Regions from separate parts of the Homo sapiens genome. Here all the other regions are linked to region 2. Evidence: fine-mapped expression QTL. A gene starts in region 2. Each other region holds a variant in brackets. All regions are shown on one strand. Distances are between the middles of the regions.

Region 1 (7,118 bases), 12 kb after region 2:
GGCAGATTATTGTCTGTAACTTGCCTCCTTAGTTCTTCCAACACTCTCTCCTTCCCCCTCCTCCCCTCCCATGGTCCAACCCTGAGGGTTCCAGCAGCAGCTGGGAGGTCTCCGATGTTATCTCAGAGCTCCCAATCTGCTGACATTTGAAAATCTTCTGGCTATAACTTGCTCACTTAGCGGCTGCTGCTCTGCAGCCCTGAGCCCTCCTAAAGGAGACCCTACACAGAAGAGTACAATGTAAACAGCCGTCGCCAGAGTCCCCCCAGCCAGAGATAGCCCTTGGGTACATTTTGCAATATTTTGTTTTGTTTGCTCTCAGACCGGACTTGCCCCCCTTTTTAGCACAGCCCAATTCTACTACGTATACTCCCTCCTTGTTCTTTTTGTTTGGCATTATATCCTAAGCATTTCCCTGCATCATCCAAGCTCTGTGGGATGTCATTTTTAACACCCACACAGCGTCCTCTGGTGTGGTTGTATGACAAGTCACTTAACTATTCCACACCCAAAGCCTCCCCTTTTCCAAACTCTTCCCTGGGACCTCCTGAAGGTAACAGCAAGATCTGAGCAGCGCTGGATGGATCCTGCTCTCAGTCCCCTGTCTGGGAACAACGCTGAGCCTTAACAGGGATGTCAGCTTCCTAGGGCTGCTGTAACAAATCCCACAAACTGAGTGCCTTCAAACATTGTCTGGTAGTTCTGGAGGTCAAAGGTGCAGAACGAGTTTCACTGGGCTGAAACCAAGGTAGGGCTGTGCTCTCTCCTGAGGCTTTAGGGGAGAATCTGCTTCCTGAACTTTTCTAGCTTGGAGAGCTGCATTCCTTGGCCCTTCGTCCCCCTTGCTTCTCTTCCAAGCCAGTAGTGTAGCATCCTCAGATCTCCCTCTGCTTTCGTCTTCACGTTGCCTTTCCTTTTCTGCAGTCAGATGTCCCTCTGTCCCTCTTATAAGGACATTTGTGATGACATTTAGGGCCTATGTGGGCGATCCAGGATCATCTGTAGATCTAGAACTTAAACTTTTTTTTTTTTTTTTTTTTTTTTAGATGTGGTCTCACTCTGTCACCCAGGCTGGAGTGCAGTAGCACCATTTCGGTTCACTGCAACTTCTGCCTCCTGGGTTCAAGCGATTCTCCTGTCTCAGCCTCCCAAGTGGCTGGGATTACAGGTGTGCACCACCATCTCCAGCTAACTTTTTTGTATTTTTAGTAGAGACAGGGTTTTGCCATGTAGGCCAGGCTGGTCTCGAACTGTTGACCTCAGGTGATCTGCCTTGGCCTCCCAAAGCGTTGGGATTACAGGCGTAAGCCACCGCGTCCGGCCACATTATTCTTATTTGCAAAACAAATACTTATCTGGCATCAAACAGATACTTTGCATCCGGCAAAAACAGGTGGAGGTGACTGAAGGCGAATGTGGGAGGTCATGGTGGGTTAATGATCGCCAGCGCTGTCCGGTGAAATCAACCACCTGTGACAAAGGTGGTTTTTCACTTTTACTGAACAAGCATGCTATTCTACAGTAAACTCCTTAACAAATGTAGCTTTTCAAGGTCCTTAGGACTATTACCTTTCAATATTATTGGGAAGTTCTTTGCTCTTCTTAGCAGACTGCGAAACTCAACTTTGTGATGACAAGATACAGAATAAATGCATATTAACTGAAATTCTAGGCTCACACCTATGTGAGCTTTTCTCTCTCTAACAAGATGTCAGGGCCGGTTCAGGGAGTTCATCTCCAGCCACCTGTGCTAATCATCGCCCATCCTTTCCAAGTATCTAATGACACTCCCAACCAAGGTCTCTATAATTTCCAGCCAAAAATGAGTTACAACATATGGAACATCTAATTTTCTGTTTCCATTCTAGTTATTTTATTCTTATGAGCTTGTGGGCTCCATCTACCAACCTCTGGGCAAATGCTCATCTGACTTCCATAGACACACAGCAAGCAGACAACCACACAAAGAGGAAGAGGGAGAATATTTACCAGCCATGGAACATCTGCTCTGTGCTTATATCTCATATGCATTATCTCTAATTATCAAAAGAAGGTATTATTATTATTATTGTTCCGCATTCACAGATGACAAACTGAAGATCAGATTGGTTAAATACTTGTCCAACATTAACTTAGCATTTGGGCATCATAGTTGGAATTAAAACTTGGGTCTGCTCATCTCCAAAAACACCCTAAGCCTTACCACACTCATGGGACACAGCTGCAGCTGCAGGTTCTGAAAGGAAAACTAAAACTTCAGAACCCAGTTCACTATGCCAAAAAGGCAAAAAAAAAAAAAAAAAAAAAAAGCCAAAAGCTGAGTCATGCAAGAAGCTGACTTTCCTTTTGCTCCTAAGTAGATAGCTACAGATAAAAGGTTAAATAGCTCCACAGGTAGCTACTGTATGTTCACCTTATCTTACGTAAACTGCTGATTTATTGAGCATGAGACAAATACGTAATTGACTATCCCCTACCTACTCCGTTTCCTTTGCAACATGTGGATTCAGTCATGTGACCATACACTGCCTTTCTCCTCTCCAGCCTACTTTTCCACTTTAAATATCAAAGCCCTCAAAATCATCTTTGGAGAAAGGCACAGACTAGCGACTGTTTCTGTGATTTCGTGTCTTTTTACTTCCAGACATGTCCTTAACCTTGGCACAACAAATCTCTAAATCGATTGAGACCTGTCTCAGATACTTCTTGGTTTACAAGATGGAGGCTGAAATTAAAGAGAAAGATCCTCACTCAACTCACAGAGGAGCAGAATGGGAAGAGGACTTAGTGAGAATTCCCTGAACACAGGAGAAAACCGAAGCCCAGAGAGTGGATGGCCAAGTCCAAGGTCACACAGCCAAGTGCATCCGAGCAGCGCAGGATCCAGGTTTCCTGCCCCAGTGCTCTTTCTGCAGCCCATGCCACCTGTTTTCATGCTATCTCAGTTCACCTTCCAGCTACACACCTGCAATCAGAAACAGAAAGTCTGAGAGTGTGTGTGGAGCCAAAGAGGGGACAGCAGTGGTGAGGCCAGTTTCATGTCTTGTGATTTATTTTCTCCCTTTCTTTTTGGACTTTAATCTTAAGTGGACAGCAATTTGGAACAGTGTCAGCACCTTGTTGGATTGTGCTGTTTGGGAGAGGTGACACAGAGTATTTTAAAAGAGCAGGTTAAGAACTTTTCACAAGGAATCAATTGAGAGAAAATAAAATAGAAACAGACTGTCCCACATTTGGGCTGAGCACCAAACACATTTTTTTTTTTTTTTTTGAGACTGAGTCTTGCTCTGTCACTCAGGCTGGAATGCAGTGGCGCGATCTCGGCTCACTGCAGCCTTCACCTCCCGGGTTCAAGTGATTCTTCTGCCTCAGCCTCCCAAGTAGCTGGGATTACAGGTGCCCACCACCATGCCAGGCTAATTTTTGTATTTTTAGTAGAGACGAGGTTTCACCATGTTGGCCAGGCTGGTCTTGAACTCCTGACCAAGTGATCCACCTGCTTCGGCCTCCCAAAGTGCTGGGATTACAGGCACGAGCCACCGCACCTGGCCTCAAACAAGCTTTTTAATTGCATTCAGAAGTGCACCAACTAGGCACAGACCTCTGGCATGGAGACAGAATGGGAGGTTCTTGGTGTCTGGCCTGGTCTTGCAGAAATCAGGGAGTTGTGGGGACCAGGCAGCCACTGTGCATCAGATAGGAGTTTCAGCAGCAGGCAACAGAAAGCCTGCCAATGTAGCTGAAATAAGAAGGGCTTATTTTTATCCCTGAACAGAAGCTTCCAGCACTGGTTCATCAGATCAGGGCACTGAGCTGGCATCCCCATTTATACAGTTTTCCTTTCCTTCACCTTTGTAAGATGCCTGGCACAGCTCTGAGCATCAAATATCTGTGCCATGTGGGAGCACACGAGGGGACAAGTGGGGAATAGGGTCTCCTCTGTCCTCTGTCCCCAGGCTGGCTTCTCTCGTGGTAGAAGGACCCCCACAGCACCAGGCCTCATAACTACCCTGCTGGTAAACTGCAGGTGCTGTCACGGCTTCCTGCCTTCGTATATGAAATGTTCCTTGGCAGCTGGACTGCTGTTTGTTTACCGCACGCACAGCTCT[G/T]CTGCCTCTTGGTTACACCAGTGAGCTATTGCTCCATGACAAGCCACACCGAAATGTAGCAAGCACTTATTGTTGCCCACATGTGTCAAGTCAGTTGAGTGTTTCTGCCAACCGGGGCCTGGCTTGGCCCACCTTGGCTGAGCTTGCTCTGGTGCTAGGGTCAGCTAGACAGGTCGGCAGGAGACCAGCTGCTCTAGAAGAGCCTGGACAGGATGAATTGGTTCTCCTTCCACGTGCATCTTGCATCCCTCCAGCCAAGGATTTGAACCCAGGTCTCGTCTGACTCCAAATGCACCAAGAGGATGGAGCCCAGAGTGACACAGAGGAAGAGGCCCCTGGATGGATGCATGGGGAAGGTGAGGCCTGGAGGTGATATGCTTGAGATTACCAGGCTCTTCTGAACCTGGGGGACCTTCTCCTATGATAGCCCTGCTCCTCCAGACCCAGCAGGTGATTTCCCCAAAAGCCGCTTACAGTGAACGCACCTGATAGCAATAACTTAAGCATCCCCTGAGAATGACCCTTATGGCAGGTGCAGGTGAATGTGGTTTGGAGTTCTGAGCTAAGGAATCTGGGAGTGGCCAACCTGGAGATTCATTCCTATTCCTTATCTATGAGGAACATCTGAGCTCCTGTCCCGTCCTGTGCAACACGGACAGTACAGGGGATCAAGGCCCTTTGTTTTGGGTTAGGTAAATGTTGCCAGGTGGACACTGTTGGGGGAGGGTGCTAAGTGAAGATGCTATATATGCTGCAAGCTTTTTGTAAGTTGTGTGGCTCTCCTGCCCAGCCCACCACTGCTAGATGCTCTCCCCTGCATGTAAGCCCCAGTAAAACTCCATGTCTCCTTCAGCAGCCCTGGGTCCTTTCTTCAGCCTCTCAAACCTGCTGCCATCCCCATTGGAGTAGATAGGGGTTCAGCATAACAGCAGCCACCAGCTGGGGAAAGGCGTGGCATTTGGAGCTCCCTACATGGTCTTGACTCTAATATGGAGGGAAAGAAAACAGATTCTGCCCTGCTCAGTAAAGCCCCCTACTGGCCTCCCACCCTGGACTGTGGACAAAGCTTTTTTTTTTTTTTGAGACGGAGTCTCACTGTGTCCCCCAGGCTGGAGTGCAGTGGCGTGATCTCAGCTCACTGCAAGCTCCGCCTCCCCGGTTCACGCCATTCTCCTGCCTCAGGCTCCCGAGTAGCTGGGGCTACAGGCGCCTGCCACTACACCCGGCTAATTTTTTTTTTTTTTTTCATTTTTAGTGGAGACGGGGTTTCATCGTGTTAGCCAGGATGGTCTCGATCTCCTACCTCGTGATCTGCCCACCTCGGCCTCCCAAAGTGCTGGGATTACAGGCGTGAGCCACTGCGCCCGGCCAACAAAGCATATTTTTTTCCTCTGAGGTCTTTACCCTATAACTGCAAGTGGTTTCATGACACTGCACATGGGTTCTTATCTGGGGTTGGTAGATTCAACTCAATTCCACAGGTTTACTGGGTGTTGCCTCCCATGCTTGGAGCCAGGAGGATGCAGGGAAATGGGGCTGCCACCATACCCGCTCTTCTTATGATCCCATCACATCATTGCACCCTTTGGGGCCTGGCACCATGCTCTGGCACTTTGCCTCCATCATCTCCTTTAACCTCTGAGCTCTGTCAGGAAGGCATTACTACTATCCCTGGAATACAGACAGGAAAACTGAGTTGGATTGAGGCTCAGAGAGGTTAAGTCACTTACCCAAGGTCACAAAGCTAGAGAGTGGCAGGCCAGCATCCAAGGCCAGCAACACGAGCTCCCTCTGATCCAAATGGTGACTCTATGTTTGATCAGTGCTCTGAGAACTCTCCAAAGATCTTTATCAACTGTCATCTCTTCATTGCCCAGGCCCAGTCAGGGAGCCACTTGGCTGCGGTCCCGCTGAGATTTAGGGGCAGGACCCCTGATGTGAGGTGGAATGCTTGGTCACGCTGTTCAAGCCTCCACCAGTCACTCCTGACTGGTTATGGACACTCAATGTGCCCCGTCCTGTGTGCAATGCAGTGTGGGAAGGGGATCAAGGACCTTGGCTAATCCCAGGCATTTCCCCAGAATGTCCCAGGTGTGGACCCCTTGGGAGGTGCTGGGAAGCAGGCTGGTGTCCCACAGGCCTTGGTTCCATCCCAGCTGTGCTGTGCTAAGCTGAAACTCTTTGGGCAGCTTGTTTCACCTCATGAGACTTCTTTTTCTGAACTGTTAAATGGGATGATTCGACCTCTGCTTGGCTTTTGGTGACGATTAAACGAGATATTAGCTGTAAAGCATTTCATCCCGGGTCTGGTATAGAAGAAGCACTTGATAAATGAAAGCTCTGTTGAGTATGATGATCCGTCACCCCAGGCATCAGTGGGATCTCACAGCAGGAACAATGCCTAACTCCTAACTGATGCCCAGTAAACATCGGGTGGATGCAATGTCCAACAAGACAGATATTCATGTTCAGTTTTACAGAAAAGGAGACAGAGGCCAGAAAAGGAAGAAAGTGCCCAGGTCAGCCGGCTAGTAAGAGGCAGAGTTGAAATTTGAACCGGGTTCTGGCTGGCTGCAGCTCCACTGCTCCACTACTGCACTGTCTGAGAGCCAAAAGGCACCTTGTAGTCAGGCAGGCAGGGAGCTGGCTTCTTGCTGTCCTGCTGGATCCTGCCCTAGTGTGGCCCTCCCTGGAACCAGGGGTGGGGCTGGAGGGCAGGGCACTGAGAGAGAGCTCCTGGGAACTGTACCATCTGCACAAAGGGCACCTGCTGGGCACTCTGCTGAAAGCTGTCTGCAAACACCACTTCCTGCCTGCCTCCCTGGGGGCTCTAAGCTCAGGAGGGGGTGAGGGCCCATGTCTGCACGTGGTGAGGCCCCTGCTGGGTATTGTACCACACCTTCATTGTGCTCAGGGTGGCCAGTGGAGGCCCTTCCCAGACTCGAGCTCTGGTCACAAGCCCAACCCCCTCCTTGCTCCTGTCTGGGCTCACCTGGAATCTCCTGCCTC
Region 2 (7,118 bases):
CCCAGGATCAATAAACTGCTGCTGTCTACCTTTGAGGGTGCTACCTCCAAACACAGTCACATTGGAAGTCAGGGTGTCAACCTAGGAATTGGGGGGAAACACAAACTTTCAGTCCTTAATGGGAATCCAAGTCAGGGGGTCATAAGTTGAGTGTCAGAAGAGAAAGATTAAGGAGGTATTATTAGTGCCGGTGGGCCAAACATGAAGTCTAGACACATTACTTAATCATTACATTCATTCATATAGTAAATATTCACCAGGTACATATATACTGAGTGCTGGGCTAGTTTCTGATGATGCAGAAATGAATGGCTTTATTGTCTTCGTCCTCAAGGCCCTCATGGTCTAGTGTAGAAGACAGACTGTAAATATTTACCATTCAGTACGATGTGTGCTGTTGCAGAGCGTGGCTTGGGCGCTATGGGGAACCAGAGGGCATGGAGCCTGGTTTGGAGGGGCAGGGAAGACTTTCTGAAATATGGGAGACAAGTCGAAGCCTATCTGACCAAGGCACCATGCAGGAGGAGGCGGGACATTCATGGCACAAGGCCAGCATGGCAGCAGTGTGAGGTGTGATGGGTGTGACCCATTCAAGGAACTGCCAGGTGCTCCATCTGAACCAACATGTCTGAGCTGGGGGCCTGGCATGAGGGTCATGCAGTCCTGTGGGTGCCAAAACAAGGTGGTTAATTTTATCCTAAAAACAATTGGCATCTACTGAGGAGTTTTATTTGGGAAGAGGTAAAATTAAATTAGAATGGGCAATGTATCTCTGGAAGCAGAGTGAAGGGGGAGCTGGAGGGGCAAGCCCAGAGGCAGGGCCAACACTGAGCTGCATGGTCCCTGCGATGGACAATCTGAGCCTGAGGTAAACGGGCTGATGTGGGACTGACGGATGCAAGGTGACAGGCTGAGGCTAGGGACCGTCATCACTCCCAGTCACACTGCAAGCTGCAGCAGGGTAGAGCCACATCTGATTTGTCCCCAGTGCCTGACCAGAGTTGGGGCTCAGTGTTTGTTGAGTGAATTCTTACTGCATGGCCAGGGTTTCTGGTCCTGGCAGCTGGGTGGATGGAGGGGTCATATTGAGAATCCTGGAGTGCAGTAGTAGCCAGGTGTGAAGAGTCAAGCAGGTCTGCAGCCTGAGGATCAGCATGGCAGCAGGAGGGTCCTCTGGGAGCTGGTCATGAATTTGATATGGACCATGGGATGGTGCCCACTTTTGTTTGTATCCTGGGGTACAGATCACAGCTCCATGAAGGTTTGAGCTAGGCAGGTGAGCCACGCTGGGAGCAAAGATGGTGGTGGCTAGGTACTTGCTTATCCCTATACCAATCAGCAGGATGTGGGTGGGGCCAGATAAGAGAATAAAAGCAGGCTGCCCGAGCCAGCATTGGCAACCCGCTCGGGTCCCCTTCCACACTGTGGAAGCTTTGTTCTTTTGCTCTTTGCAATAAATCTTGCTACTGCTCACTCTTTGGGTCCACGCTGCTTTTATGAGCTGTAACACTCACCGCGAAGATCTGCAGCTTCACTCCTGAGCCCAGCAAGACCACGAGCCCACCGGGAGGAATGAACAACTCCAGACACGCTACCTTAAGAGCTGTACCACTCACCGCGAAGGTCTGCAGCTTCACTCCTGAGCCAGCGAGACCACGAACCCACCAGAAGGAAGAAACTCCGAACACATCTGAACATCAGAAGGGACAGACTCCAGACACGCCACCTTAAGAGCTGTAACACTCACCGCGAGGGTCCACGGCTTCATTCTTGAAGTCAGTGAGACCAAGAACCCACCAATTCCGGACACAGTGCTGAGAATCATGCCTTGAAATCTAGCAGCTCTGTTAAAAACTGAGCAAGGTGTACTTCGGGGTTGTGTTGAGAAGGTTGGTGTTCAGCTAAATCAGGAGGGAAGGCCAAGGAAAATCAGGCTTGGCACCTGTCAACAGGTGGGACCCAATAGCCAAGCAAATGGTCCTGCAAACTGTACTACCCAACGTTCACAGCAAGGATTCCAACTTCTCACCAGGGCATGGAAAATTTGCCTTCATGTCAACCACCACCTTAGCCCTTGACTACCCAACGGACTCTTCCCAAGTCAACAGCCACTTCCTCCCTGGGGCTTAACAGGCATTCCTTGAAGCCTGCCCCGGGCAGTTAGTCCTTCCCTTTTGTGTGAACTCTCGGCTGTTTTCGTTGTCTGCACACAGAGCAGTGGTCTAGGGAGCGAAGGGTTTTGGAATGGACCTTTTCCTTTCTTAGCTTGCTGTAGGGATTGTGCTTCAGCTAAGTAAAGTGGAAAAACAGAAGTACAAAAGCAACAGCCCCAGATCTAAGGGCACCGTAGCTCTGGAATCTGGATTTTATTCCAGATTCAACCCTCAGCAGGGAGTTGAAGTGGTCAGCCCTGTGCTTTACAAGGCTGATTGGGCAGCACCCATAGTAGAATTGTCAATATAAAGTAATTGAAAGGATCAGAATCCAGGGTTTTCGTTGTTTTTAAGTTTTTAAGTTTTAAAAACAAAGTTGTTTTTGTTCGTTTTTAAGTTTACTTCTCTTTAATCGGTCTCACTTTATTGACCAGGCTGGTTTCGAACTCCTGGGCTTAAGTGATTTCTCCTGTCTCAGCTTCTCAAAGTGCTGGGATTACAGGCGTGAGCCGCTGCACCCAGCCCAGAATCCAGTTTTAAAGAGTTTATTCAAGCCAAAAGCTGGGAATGGCCATCTGAGAAACACAGACTCTAGGAAAATGGGGCCAGGGCCCTGAAGTTAAAAGTTAAAGTCTTGCTTACATAGGCAGAAAGCAAAGACATTTAGTAACCTTGTAGAACATTTTCTTGTATAACTTTTCTTGTTTTAACTTTCTTGTTTAACATTTTCTATGCAAGGCTGGTTTATGAGTTACAACCTATAATTAATTATAGGTTGTTCCCCTGCCTCCACCTTGTTTTCTTTTCTCTACAGCTTGTTTTCATTTCCTTTCCAATTTAAGAATGTGTTTAACATTCTATCCCAGACAATGTGATGGTCATGAAGTCTCTGTCAGAGAGGAAAGAGGGAGTTAATCTATAATGAAGATCAACAGTGAAGAGGAAAGGGGTCTTCCCTGGAACGCTTCAGTCATATACGACATTTTACACAACAATGTAAGTAAGGAAAAAGGCTAATCTATAATCAGAGAAACAAAGGTTGCAGCTGCCTGTTTACATGACTCAGGTCCCATGATCAAATTCCCTTAAGGCTCGAAATATTTTAAAGTTCCAACAGCTTAGATTTTGAATTGCTTATTTTCACAGAATGGACCTGTGTAAGGAGGTATGTGTGGGAGAAGATTCCAGAAGGTCTTGAGACACTCCAGATGAAGGTTGGTGTGGGGCTGTGCTGCTGGAGCACCAGAGAGTGAAAAGAGGCAAGCGATTTATAGTCTCATCAAATATCGACAAGTTTGGGTTTTCCTTTAGAGTTGGGCAGGGCCTGGCTGGACTTCTTTCTCCACCAGTCTCCGGGAGGCTCAAACAAGTTCTGATTTTCAGGTTCTGAAAAAGCTCTCAGGGAAAAAGCAGCTTCCATTCTGTTTTTTTTCCCTTTCTGCATTCTACTTCCCTTTTATTTTTGGCCTGGTAATTTCTGTCTTATCAGCTTTTAGATGTCCTTGAGATTTTTCTTTTCTTTCATTTTTTTTTTTTTGAGACAGGGTGTAAACCAAAAACTCTTTTATTCTTTTTTTTTTTCTTTTGAGACAGGATGTAAACCAAAAATAAAATTCTAAGCCCCGCCCTCCCTGCAACCATCTGAATGGACTTCCTCCTGGGCCAGGGTACTTTTAACCTGAAAGACTGGTTCAGGCCATGATGGAAAGTAGAGGTCAGACAGGACTCATTATACCTCTCTGATGAGAAGCATTTACAATCTATTTTCTCTGAAGCCTGCTACCCGGAGGCTTCATCTGCATGGTAAAACTTTGGTCTCCACAACCTCCTATCACAGCACAGACATTTTCTTTCTATTGAGCCCAGATCTTTAGATAAACTTAACCAATTGTCAACCAGTCAATTTTAAATCTACCTGTAACCTGGGAGCCCCCAACCTCCACCCAACAATTCAAGTTGTCCCACCTTTCTGGACAGAACCAATGTATTTCTTAAATGTATTTGATTGACATCTCATGTCTCCCTAAAATGTATAAAACCAAGCTGCACCCCGACCACCTTGGGCATAGTTCTCAGGATCTCCTGAGGGCTGTGTTACAGGCCATGGTCACTCATATTTGGCTCAGAATAAATCTCTTCAAATATTTTACAGAGCTTGACTGTTTTTATTTGTTAATGATCTCACTCTATCGTCCAGGCTGGAGTGCAGTGGTGCAATCATGGATTACTGCAGCCTCTACCTCCCTGGGCTCACATGATCCTCCCTTCTCAGCCTCCCAAGTAGCTGAGACTACACACATGCGCCACCATGCCTGGTTAATTTTAAAACTTTTTGTATAGATGGAGGTCTTACTGTGTTGCCCAGGCTGGTCTCAAACTTCTGGCCTCAAGTGATCCTACCACCACAGCCTCCCAAATTGGTGGGATTACAGGGATACGATTTTTATTTTATTTTTATAGAGATGGGGGTCACAGTATGATGCCCTGGCTGGTATTGAACTCCTGTGTTCAAGCAATACCCCTGCCTTAGCCTCTCAAAGTTCTGGGATTACAGGTGGGAGCCACCATGCCCAGCCTGGGAGAAGACTTTTAAAACATATTTTGTTTAGGCCAGTCATGGTGTTGAGGTCAGGAGTTCAAGACCAGGCTGGCCAACATGGCGAAACTGTGTCTCTACTAAAAAATATAAAAAACTTAGCCAGGCGTGGTGGCAGGTACCTGTAGTCCCAGCTACTTGGGAGGATGAGGAAGGAGAATTGCTTGAACCCAGGAGGTGGAGGTTGCAGTGAGTCAAGATCATGCCACTGCACTTCAGCCTGGGTGACAGAGTGAGACTCTGTCTCAAAAAAACAAAAGCAAATCATGTTTTGTTGAGTTTGTTTAGCTGTGTATTCACAAGTTGATTGGCATCTCTCAGCCCATCCCAACCCCACCCCGGAATGCTCTTCCCAGGCTTCCTAACAGGTATTCTCCTTTACCTGGATTGCATTTGTAGAAAACACTCTGCTTCAGTGGGAGGCAAGGAACAGAATATTTCTCTGTCTAGGGCATACTCTTCCATGTTATCTGATTCCAATTCTATGGGACCTATTTTACCATTCTGAAAGCTACAGATAACCGATAGAAATGAAAAATAATTCTTGTCTATGGATATGCAAATGCTTATATTTTGAAGAGAGACAACCCTTCCTCACTTCCCCCCAAATCCCCTAGTTTGCTTCCATTTTACACATTCATTTCAATATTTCTCTTCTCTTCCTTCTTTTCTTTTTTTTTAGGTTATCTCCCTCTGTGCCAGGCCAGAGTGCAGTGGTGCAATCACGGCTCACTGTAGTCTCAACCTCCTGGGCTCAAGAGATCCTCCCACTTCAGCCTCCCAAGCAGCTAAGACTACAGGCACGTGTCATCATATCTGGCAAATTAAAAAAAAAATTATAGAGATGGGCTCTCCCTGTGTTTCCCTGGTTGGTCTCAAACTCCTGGGCTCAAGTGATCCTCCCATCTTGGCCTCCCAACTTACTGGGATTACAGGCATTTGCCACTGTGCCCAGCCCATTTCAATATTTCTGATCAATAAATGTGCCTGTCCTTCAGATTCTCCTTTGAATTGGCTGTCACACCTCTTCAGTTTCTTCACTGAGGAGTTAAACATAATCTTGAGCAGCACGTGATATTGTTTAGCTCTGTGTCCCCACCAAATCTCATCTTGAATCGTAATCCCCCTGTGTGTCAAGGGATGGACCTGGTAGGGGATGATTGGATCATGGGGGGTGGTTTTCCCCATGGTGTTCCCATATAGTGAATGAGTTCTCACGAGATCTGATGGTTTAAAAGTGTTTGGCAGTTCCCCCTTCTCTCTCTCTCTCTCTCTCTCTCTCTCTCTCTCTCTCTCTCTGGCCACTTTGTGAAAAAGGTGCTCGCTTTTCCTTCGCTTTCTGCCATGATTGTAAGTTTCCTGAGGTCTCCCCAGCGATGTGGAACTGTGAGTTAATTAAACCTCTTTCCTTTATAAATTACCCAGTTTCAGGTAGTTCTTTATAGCAGTGTGCAAATGGACTGTTACAGCACATATTCATTTTTATATCTATATTGAGTTATCATTTAACCTGTTTTTGAAAATTATCTTTTAACATGCATTTTTCTCTTTCTTATTATCTTCTTTTGCTAAAACCTGTTCTCCAGTAGCTTCCTAAGAAAGGGTGCACAGGAGACCCATTTTTTGAGCCCCTCCTTATCTGACAATGTTTTTGTTTGACCCTAACCTTTGATTAATAATGCGACTGGATGTTGAACTTGTGAAAGGAAAATAAAAACTCAGGACCCCAATTCAGTATGCCAAAAGGAAAAAAAAAAAAGAAGCTGAAAGCTGAGTCATGCAAGAAACTGCCTTTTCTTTTGCTCCTAAGTAGATGGCTACAGATAAAAGATTAAATATCTCCACAGGTAGCTACTCCATGTTCACCTTATCTTATGTAAAGTGCTGATTTACTGAGCAGGAGACAGATATGTAACTGACTATTCCCTAGCTGCTCTTCTCCTCTTGCAATGTGTGGATTACCATACCCTTCCTCTATCCCCTCCAGAGATGAATTTTTCCATGTCTGTTTCCCCCATTTAAATATTGAAGCCCTCACTATCATCTTTGGAGAAAGGGACAGATCATAGACTTGTTTCTGTGATTCTGTGTCCTTTTCTTCCAGGCATGTCCTTAACCTTGGCAAAATAAACTTCTAAATGGATTGAGACCTGTCTCAGATATTTTTTGGTTCACAAACTCTAGGGTGGGAAATATTTCCCCTCAGAACTTTGAAGGCATTGCCCCCTCATCTTCTAGCACTCAACATGGCCATTGAGATTTGATGGCATTTTAAATTCCAACATGTTTATTAATGAGACCAGTTTTTTCTCACTAGAAGTTACACATAAAATACTTAAAATAGTTCCTGGAATTTAATGAACTGAATT
Region 3 (7,118 bases), 31 kb after region 2:
TGGACACATCAGGAAGTTACCCTATATGTCTAAAAGGGGAGGAGCCCTCCATTCCAATTGTCCACCCCTTTCCTGGAAAACTCATGAATAATCCACCCCTTGTTTAGCATATAATCAAGAAATAACCATGAAAATAGCCAACCAGCAGCCCTCAGGGCTGCTTTGCCTATGGAGTAGCCATTCTATATTCCTTTACTTTCTTAATAAACTTGCTTTCACTTTAGCCTATGGACTTGCCCCAAATTCTTGCATGAGGTCCAAGAACCTTCTCTTGAGGTCTGGATTGGGACCCCTTTCTGGTAACACTACAGCCACGCTATGGAAAATCTAAATAAAAATAAAGATTGTATTTTCCAAACCATCGGGGAGCTATGGAAGCAACAAGGGCCAGAGGAAGTAAAATTCTGGAGAAGGGAGGACAGCTCAGAGGTGAGCATCTGCAGATGCCTTTCCCTTCCTGTCATTTGATAATCCTGGGCAAAGACTGAAATTGGTGCTGAGTCCAGTCGGGGGATGCTGTGGAGTCATCAAATTAGAGGCTTGGGGGGGCCTCAAACATCCAGCCAGCTTCCTCCTTCAGAGGTGCTGAACTGTGAAGCTGTGTGATGTGAGAGGCTGACAGGCTAAGCTGAAGACCTCAGGAAAGTAGAGTGGAATTTCCCGTGGTCTTTTTTTTTTTTTTTGAGGCAGTGTCTCTTTCTGTCACCCAGGCAGGAATGCAGTGGCAAAATCACAGCTCACTGCAGCCTGGACCTCTCAGGCTCAAGTGATCCTCCCACCTCAGCCCCGGAGTAGCTGGGACCACAGGCACGTGCCACCACTCCCGGGTACTTTTTGTATTTTTTGTAGAGTGGGGTCTCACCGTGTTGCCCAGGCTCCCTGTGGTCTCCTGAGAAGACAAAGGCTCACCAGGGGGTGGAGTTCCTGAGAACAGCTTGGCAGGAGCTGAAAACGCTGGAGAGCAGGTGAACTGACCCCTGCTGTCAGGCATCTGCAGCTGCTTTTTCCTGAGAACATTAGCTGTGAGTTTTGTGCAGCTGGACAAATGTGGAGACTTGAGGGAATCTCAAATGCGTGGCCAGTACCCTCTCTCCACAGGCTTTTTACAATTTGAAGCAGTTCAGGGCAGGATGCTGAAGAGCAAAGCCAAAACCCCCAAAAGGAAAATAATTTCCTGCAGTCTCTTAGTGTCATGAACAAATGTGAACCTGAAAGAGCCAATCTTTCAAGAAAGATCCCTAGGCCGGGCGCGGTGGCTCACGCCTGTAATCCCAGCACTTTGGGAGGCCGAGGCGGGCGGATCACGAGGTCAGGAGATCAAGACCATCCTGGCTAACACGGTGAAACCCCGTCTCTACTAAAAATACAAAAAAATTAGCCGGGCGTGATGGTGGGCGCCTGTAGTCCCAGCTACTCGGGAGGCTGAGGCAGGAGAATGGCGTGAACCCGGGAGGCGGAACTTGCGGTGAGCCGAGATTGCGCCACTGCACTCCAGCCTGGGCGACAGAGCCAGACGCCATCTCAAAAGGAAAAAAAAAAAAAAAAAAGACAGAAAGATCCCCAGTGGCTAACGAGGCCTAAATGTGAAATAGTAAAATACAGCCAAGCAGCCATCTGCTAACTAGAAATCACATAGGTACTCCTGAGTTCCCAGAAATCCAACACCTCTGTTTGACTTGGTGACTTTCAGAGCACGCCTAAACCAACCAATCAGAGCCCACCTGCCTTGACCAATCAAGGCTCAGCTGTATCAACTAATTGGAACTACCTGAGTCTGAATCTCTCATTTGCATAAATGGACCTGATTGGGAACCTGGGTGGAAACTTTTGCTACAGAACCCCAACCCTCCCTTTGTGCTCTGGAACACATCTTGTTTTACACTGAAGGCTGCATCTCCCTGGTTTGCAAACTATTCACTGGAATATAAAGTCTCTTTCCTCCAGTTTCCTTTCCAGAGAATTTTGTTCACAGTGCTGAGACAAAGACCTACCAGACTCTTGATTGAGGGTCATACTCTAAGAGCAGGGCAAACTAGAGATAGATAGGCAATTTTTTTTTTTTTAATATAGGGTCTCACTCTGTCACCCAGGCTGGAGTGCAGTGGCTCAATCTTGACTCACTGCAGCCTTGACCTCCTGGGTTCAAGTGATCCTCCCACCTCAGCCTCAGCTGGAGCTACAGGCATGCACCACTGTACCCAGCTCTTTTTATATTTTTTTGTAGAGATGGGGGTCTCACTGTGTTGCCCAGGCTGGTCTCAAACTCCTGAGCTCAAGCGATCCACCCACCTTGGCTTCCCAAAGTGTGGGGATTACAAAGTGAGCCACTGTGCCTGGCTGGATAGACTGATTCTTATCCAAACTGCATCTTAACCTTGACTCAGTTTAGTCCCTATTGGGATTAAACTGTTTAATACTTCACTCTATCTGCCTAGCAGAGAATAGGGTTAACTCTACTTGGGGGGAAAACGCTAGAGTCTTTCCAGTGCTTTTATACAAAATATTTGGCATTCCTTTAAATATTACTCAAGAGAAAAGACCATTTAACTAAAAACCAAGAGAAAAAGTAGACAATAGAAGGAGGCCCACCAGTAAACCAGAGTTATTAGACAAGAACTTTAAAGTAACCATGATTATGTCCAAAGAAATAGAATGATGGACAAAATGATTAAGAGTGTAGAGATTATCAGATAAAGTTTTAATCTTTAAAAAAAGCATCAAATGGGCATCCTGGAACTAATAAATATAATATTTGCAGCAAAGAAATGAATTGTTTGAGAGCAGATTGGTTATAGCAGATGTCAGCATTAGTGAACTGGAAGATAAACTAATAGAAAACATCAACATTGAAGCTCAGAGAGGAAAAAAAAGGAAACAAAACAAGAACAGAGCATAGAGAGCACGGTACACTTGTTTAAAGGGTCTGACAATGTGTAATTGGAGTCACTGAAAGAGAGGGAAAGGGAGGAAAAGAAAGGATGAGACGGGAATAGTTGAAGATACAATGGCTAAGACATTTCCTCAAATAGTGGATAAACTATTAGAGTTAAGTCAATTTATCTAGGTCTTAGATATAGTGTCAATGCACACAAACCAGTTGCATTTTTTTATAACAGCAACAAACATAATACATAATTTGAAATGACATTTAAAATAGCATCAATCAAATACTTAAGAGTTAATTTAATGAAATCAGAGAGAACAGTTAAAGACAACCCAAAATATGGAAGGATACACTATGCAATTGCTTCGGATCGTAAG[T/G]CTTAATATGTTGGAGATGTTAATTCTCTTCAAATATACCTATAGATTCAACACAATCCCAATCAATCTTAGCAGGCTTTTGGAGGTGGGGAGGATTAACAAGCTGATTTTAAAATGCATATGGATATGTAAAGGGAAGAGAATAGCTATATTAGGGTTCTCCAGAGAAACAGAATCTTACAATAAGATATAAAGACCTATTTTAAAGCTATAGTAATTAGCAATGTGGTATCAACACAAGGAGAGACAAACAGACTAATGGAATAGAAAAGTGTCCAGAAACAGACTCATACATAAATGTTCCCAGATTTATGACAGAAGTGATAATACCGTACAGTAGACAAAGCATAGTCTTTTAAATAATTGGCATTAATTGGATATCAACATGGAAAAATTAATCTAAATAAAATCTTTAGAAGAAAATAGTGTACATAAGCAAAACTTTCCTAAACCCTCATTCTTCAGTTCCGTGGTTGGGTTGACTTTCTTTTACCACTTTGCAAGTTTGCTCTGCTCACTGTCTGAAATAAGCAGAGCTGGAACTTGGATGTTCTTGTTTTTGTTATTATCTGCACAATCCCCATCCAGTCTTTTCTCTAGTAGTCATGATCTACTTGATACTAAGCCACTCTTTGGTTTTATCATTAGTTCTAACATTAAGTGCATACTTATGTCACTCCTTGTCTCAAACACTCATTGCTCATCATTCAAAACCAGCTGCTGGGACTGGCGTGTTTGATGCTTACAATGGAGCATCAATACCACCCCTGCCCCCACCACCACCACATTCTTATTCTTTATCATATGAGCTTGGATAATCCTCATTATTCCTGATCTCCAGACACACCCTGAATTACCTCTCCTCCAGGTCTACTCATGCTGCTTACTCGGTGGGACAACTTTGCCAGTTCCATCTAAACCATGCCCTGTCTAGGCTGTCTGCCTTTGGCATCTTGTCTGCCCTGCCATTTTGGCCCAGTACCTAGGAGGAGCTGAACAGAAATGTGCAGAGGTATCAGTGACTCTTACCCAGCCTTCCAAGCCCTGCACAGCGCCTCCTTGTTTGTGGTCTGGAATCCTTCCGGCAAGTGGGTGTCCAGCCTCAACGTCCCCAGGGCTTGGGGCTTGTGAAGGGCTCCCTCTGCTGGAGGAGGAGAGCATTGGGCCCAGGCATGAGTGCACCATCAGTACCAGGCAATCCTGGGAGCAATTCTGGAGAGATCAAAGTGGTTCTCAAAGACATTGGTGACACCTACCCCGGAGAGTGAATCCTTCAGGTCACAGGTACCAGAGATGGACAACTTGGCCAGAAGACATAGCCTTATCTCACTTATCTCAGACATGACATGGACAAAGACCAGCTGAAGGACCAGGAACCAAACTGTTGTCACCTGCAGCTCCGTGGCTTTTTTCATACCAGGTCCAAGGGTTGAGGGATGGGAGACCTGGCCAAAGAGGGTGATCGGTGAAGCAATCTATTTTCCACCTTGAGGCTAACTGGTAGTTATTTCTTTCTGCCTATGGAGACCTCTGCTTACCTTCTGACCACCCACTCATGGCAAGGTGTTCTCAGTCTCCATCTTCAGACCCCACCACCATTTCTACAGTAGCCACTGTGGATCTCCCTACTCCAGGTTCTGCCTCTTCCATGTAATGAGCCAAACTTGGCCAAGGCAGTCAACAAGCAGCATGCATGTTAGAGCCAGGAACAGCTGGGTCCATATCCTTCCTCTGCTACCCACTTCATTCAGGTTGCTAAGCCACTCAAGCCTCTGATACTTCATCTATGAAATGGGGGTGACGGTCTCTAGTTTATGGAGTTGTTGGGAGGTGTTAGTGAGATACCCTATGAAAAATGCCTGACATGGCATAGGGGCTCCCCACATATTAGGCAACCTTTACCTCCAACCCCACTGACAGCCACACACCTGCCCATCAGGGAGTGAGGTTGAGAATATCAAAATATATATTTGCAACAGAAAATGATAGAGATAAATAGCAATTGCATTGGGGTTACAAGGGTAGGAATGATGGATTCTGCCTGGGAGAGGGAACTAGTCTGAGAACATAACTATTGACCAGGGTATTTCAAGTATTCACTATGTGTCAGGCTTTAACACTATACACACAGCCTCATCTGATCCTCAGAGGAGTCCCATAGGGTAGGTACCTACAGCAAACAGGCTTCAGGGGGGCCCAGGAGACCAGGGGTCCCCATGATCCCTGCCTCCTGGTATTCATAACCTTGAGTAAGGATAGGACCTACCCCTGACCAATGGAATATGGCAAAGGTGACACACGTACGTGATTCCATGTATGGATCACATTATATGAGACTGTGATGTCCCTTGTCTTCCTGGCCCACTCCATTCCCACCCCAAGTGTTGGTTCCTTGGAAAAACACTGGGGATGGAGGTGGAATTGCTGTGAAAACAAGACTCAGTCCTCCACAGAAGCTGCCCAGGGAGTTCTTCAAAAGTGGTTATCCTACCTGCCATTTACACTGGATCAGGACTGTCCAGAAATCATTTTCACATCTCCCCAGCAGAATGGCATCATCTCAATACTAATCTTCACTTGAACTAGAAGAATCATGCTTGTGGTTTTCAAAAGGAAAAGGTTCCTATTCATGGTGCATTTAGAAGCAGCCCAGGGTGCTTATAGAACGGACCTGCTTCTTGCTATGTTCTTGAGCTTCTGAGGCCTCTTGACAAAGTCGAGCAAGTAAGACGACCAGGCCAAGTGGGCACTCTGGGCCCCATGGCCAAGGATGGGCTGGCCAGGTGGCCACGTGGCCTCCGGTGGCCTTGTTTCTGTGGGCTTTATCTGATCCTGAGCTCAGATGCTGATAGTGCACTGGCTTATTTTCTAAGGAGAGGGAGCTTGATTTGTGCAGGATGCGCCTTCACCAGATACCTCCAGGGGCAAGAGTCCACTGAGGTTACAGCGCCCCCCGCCCCCCATGCCTCTAAGCTCTAAGCTCAGAGAAGGGTCCCTGACACAGAGTCCTGTTAAAGGAATGGCCACAGGGATAGGAGAGACCAGGGTCGTGCATGCCAGCTCAGGATCTGGGGCAGGATGGTTGGCAGGGGGTCGTGGGGAGCAAAGGAGGGGAATCACCTGACAGAAAATTGGGCAGGGGTGCTCAGGGAGGAGGCTGCGGAGGGACTGGGACCAGTGGAAGGGAGGTGGAATAGGTCTTAGGAGCCAAATTCCTTGCAGAGGCCTGGGGTGAAGCCTGGGCAGCTCTATCCCCGGGAGCCGCCCTTTTGCCTCCAGCAGCTGCCGGTCCAGCCACAGCCCCTCCAGGAGACCCAGGCCGGGTTCCTAACTCCGCTGCTCTTTGGCCTCGTCCCTGCCTAGCCCCTGCTGCAGGTTGCTTTTTTCCCCCCTCCTCCTCCTCCCTCCTCCCTCCTCCCTCCTCCCCCTTCCTCCTCCTCCCCCTCCTCCCCCGACTGGCCCCGCCCCCACTGCCGGCCCCGCCCCCACTGCCGGCCCGGGCCCCACCCACGCCGGAGCTGCTCCATTTAAGGAGATTGCGCAGCTGGAAAGCTACACGTGTGAGCCTAGAGGCGGGTCCCGGTTGCAGACTTGCCATGGCCTCCGAAGCTTCTGTGCGTCTAGGGGTGCCCCCTGGCCGTCTGTGGATCCAGAGGCCTGGCATCTACGAAGATGAGGAGGGGAGAACCTGGGTGACTGTGGTCGTGCGGTTCAATCCCTCGCGTAGGGAATGGGCCAGGGCCTCCCAGGGCAGCAGAGTGAGTCCTGGGCACGAGGGGAGGCTGTGGGGAGGGCTGCGCACTGACCCCTGCCCGTGTGGGACCGCGGTGGGGGTCAGAGGGGGCCGTTCTCACCCG

Evidence for each region.
Region 1: its variant is fine-mapped to the expression of TCL6 in whole blood (TOPMed, PIP above 0.99).
Region 3: its variant is fine-mapped to the expression of TCL6 in whole blood (TOPMed, PIP above 0.99).

The regions. Positions count from the first base shown.
Region 1 is chr14:95,660,612-95,667,729 of GRCh38, forward strand. It overlaps LOC124903372, which reads left to right and starts at 4,202. Exons shown (of 2, transcript XM_047432042.1): 1 at 4,202-4,465. The coding sequence starts at 4,412. TCL6 (T cell leukemia/lymphoma 6) reads left to right here. Exons shown (of 8, transcript NR_028288.2): 4 at 1,869-2,053. RefSeq lists enhancers at 2,660-2,739, 4,809-5,456, 6,103-6,749. The variant G/T (reference allele first, on the strand shown) is at 4,110.
Region 2 is chr14:95,649,078-95,656,195 of GRCh38, forward strand. It overlaps TCL6 (T cell leukemia/lymphoma 6), which reads left to right and starts at 3,020. Exons shown (of 8, transcript NR_028288.2): 1 at 3,020-3,149; 2 at 3,300-3,412; 3 at 5,432-5,549.
Region 3 is chr14:95,679,611-95,686,728 of GRCh38, forward strand. TCL1B (TCL1 family AKT coactivator B) reads left to right here and starts at 6,816. Exons shown (of 4, transcript NM_004918.4): 1 at 6,816-7,019. The coding sequence starts at 6,858. The variant T/G (reference allele first, on the strand shown) is at 3,262.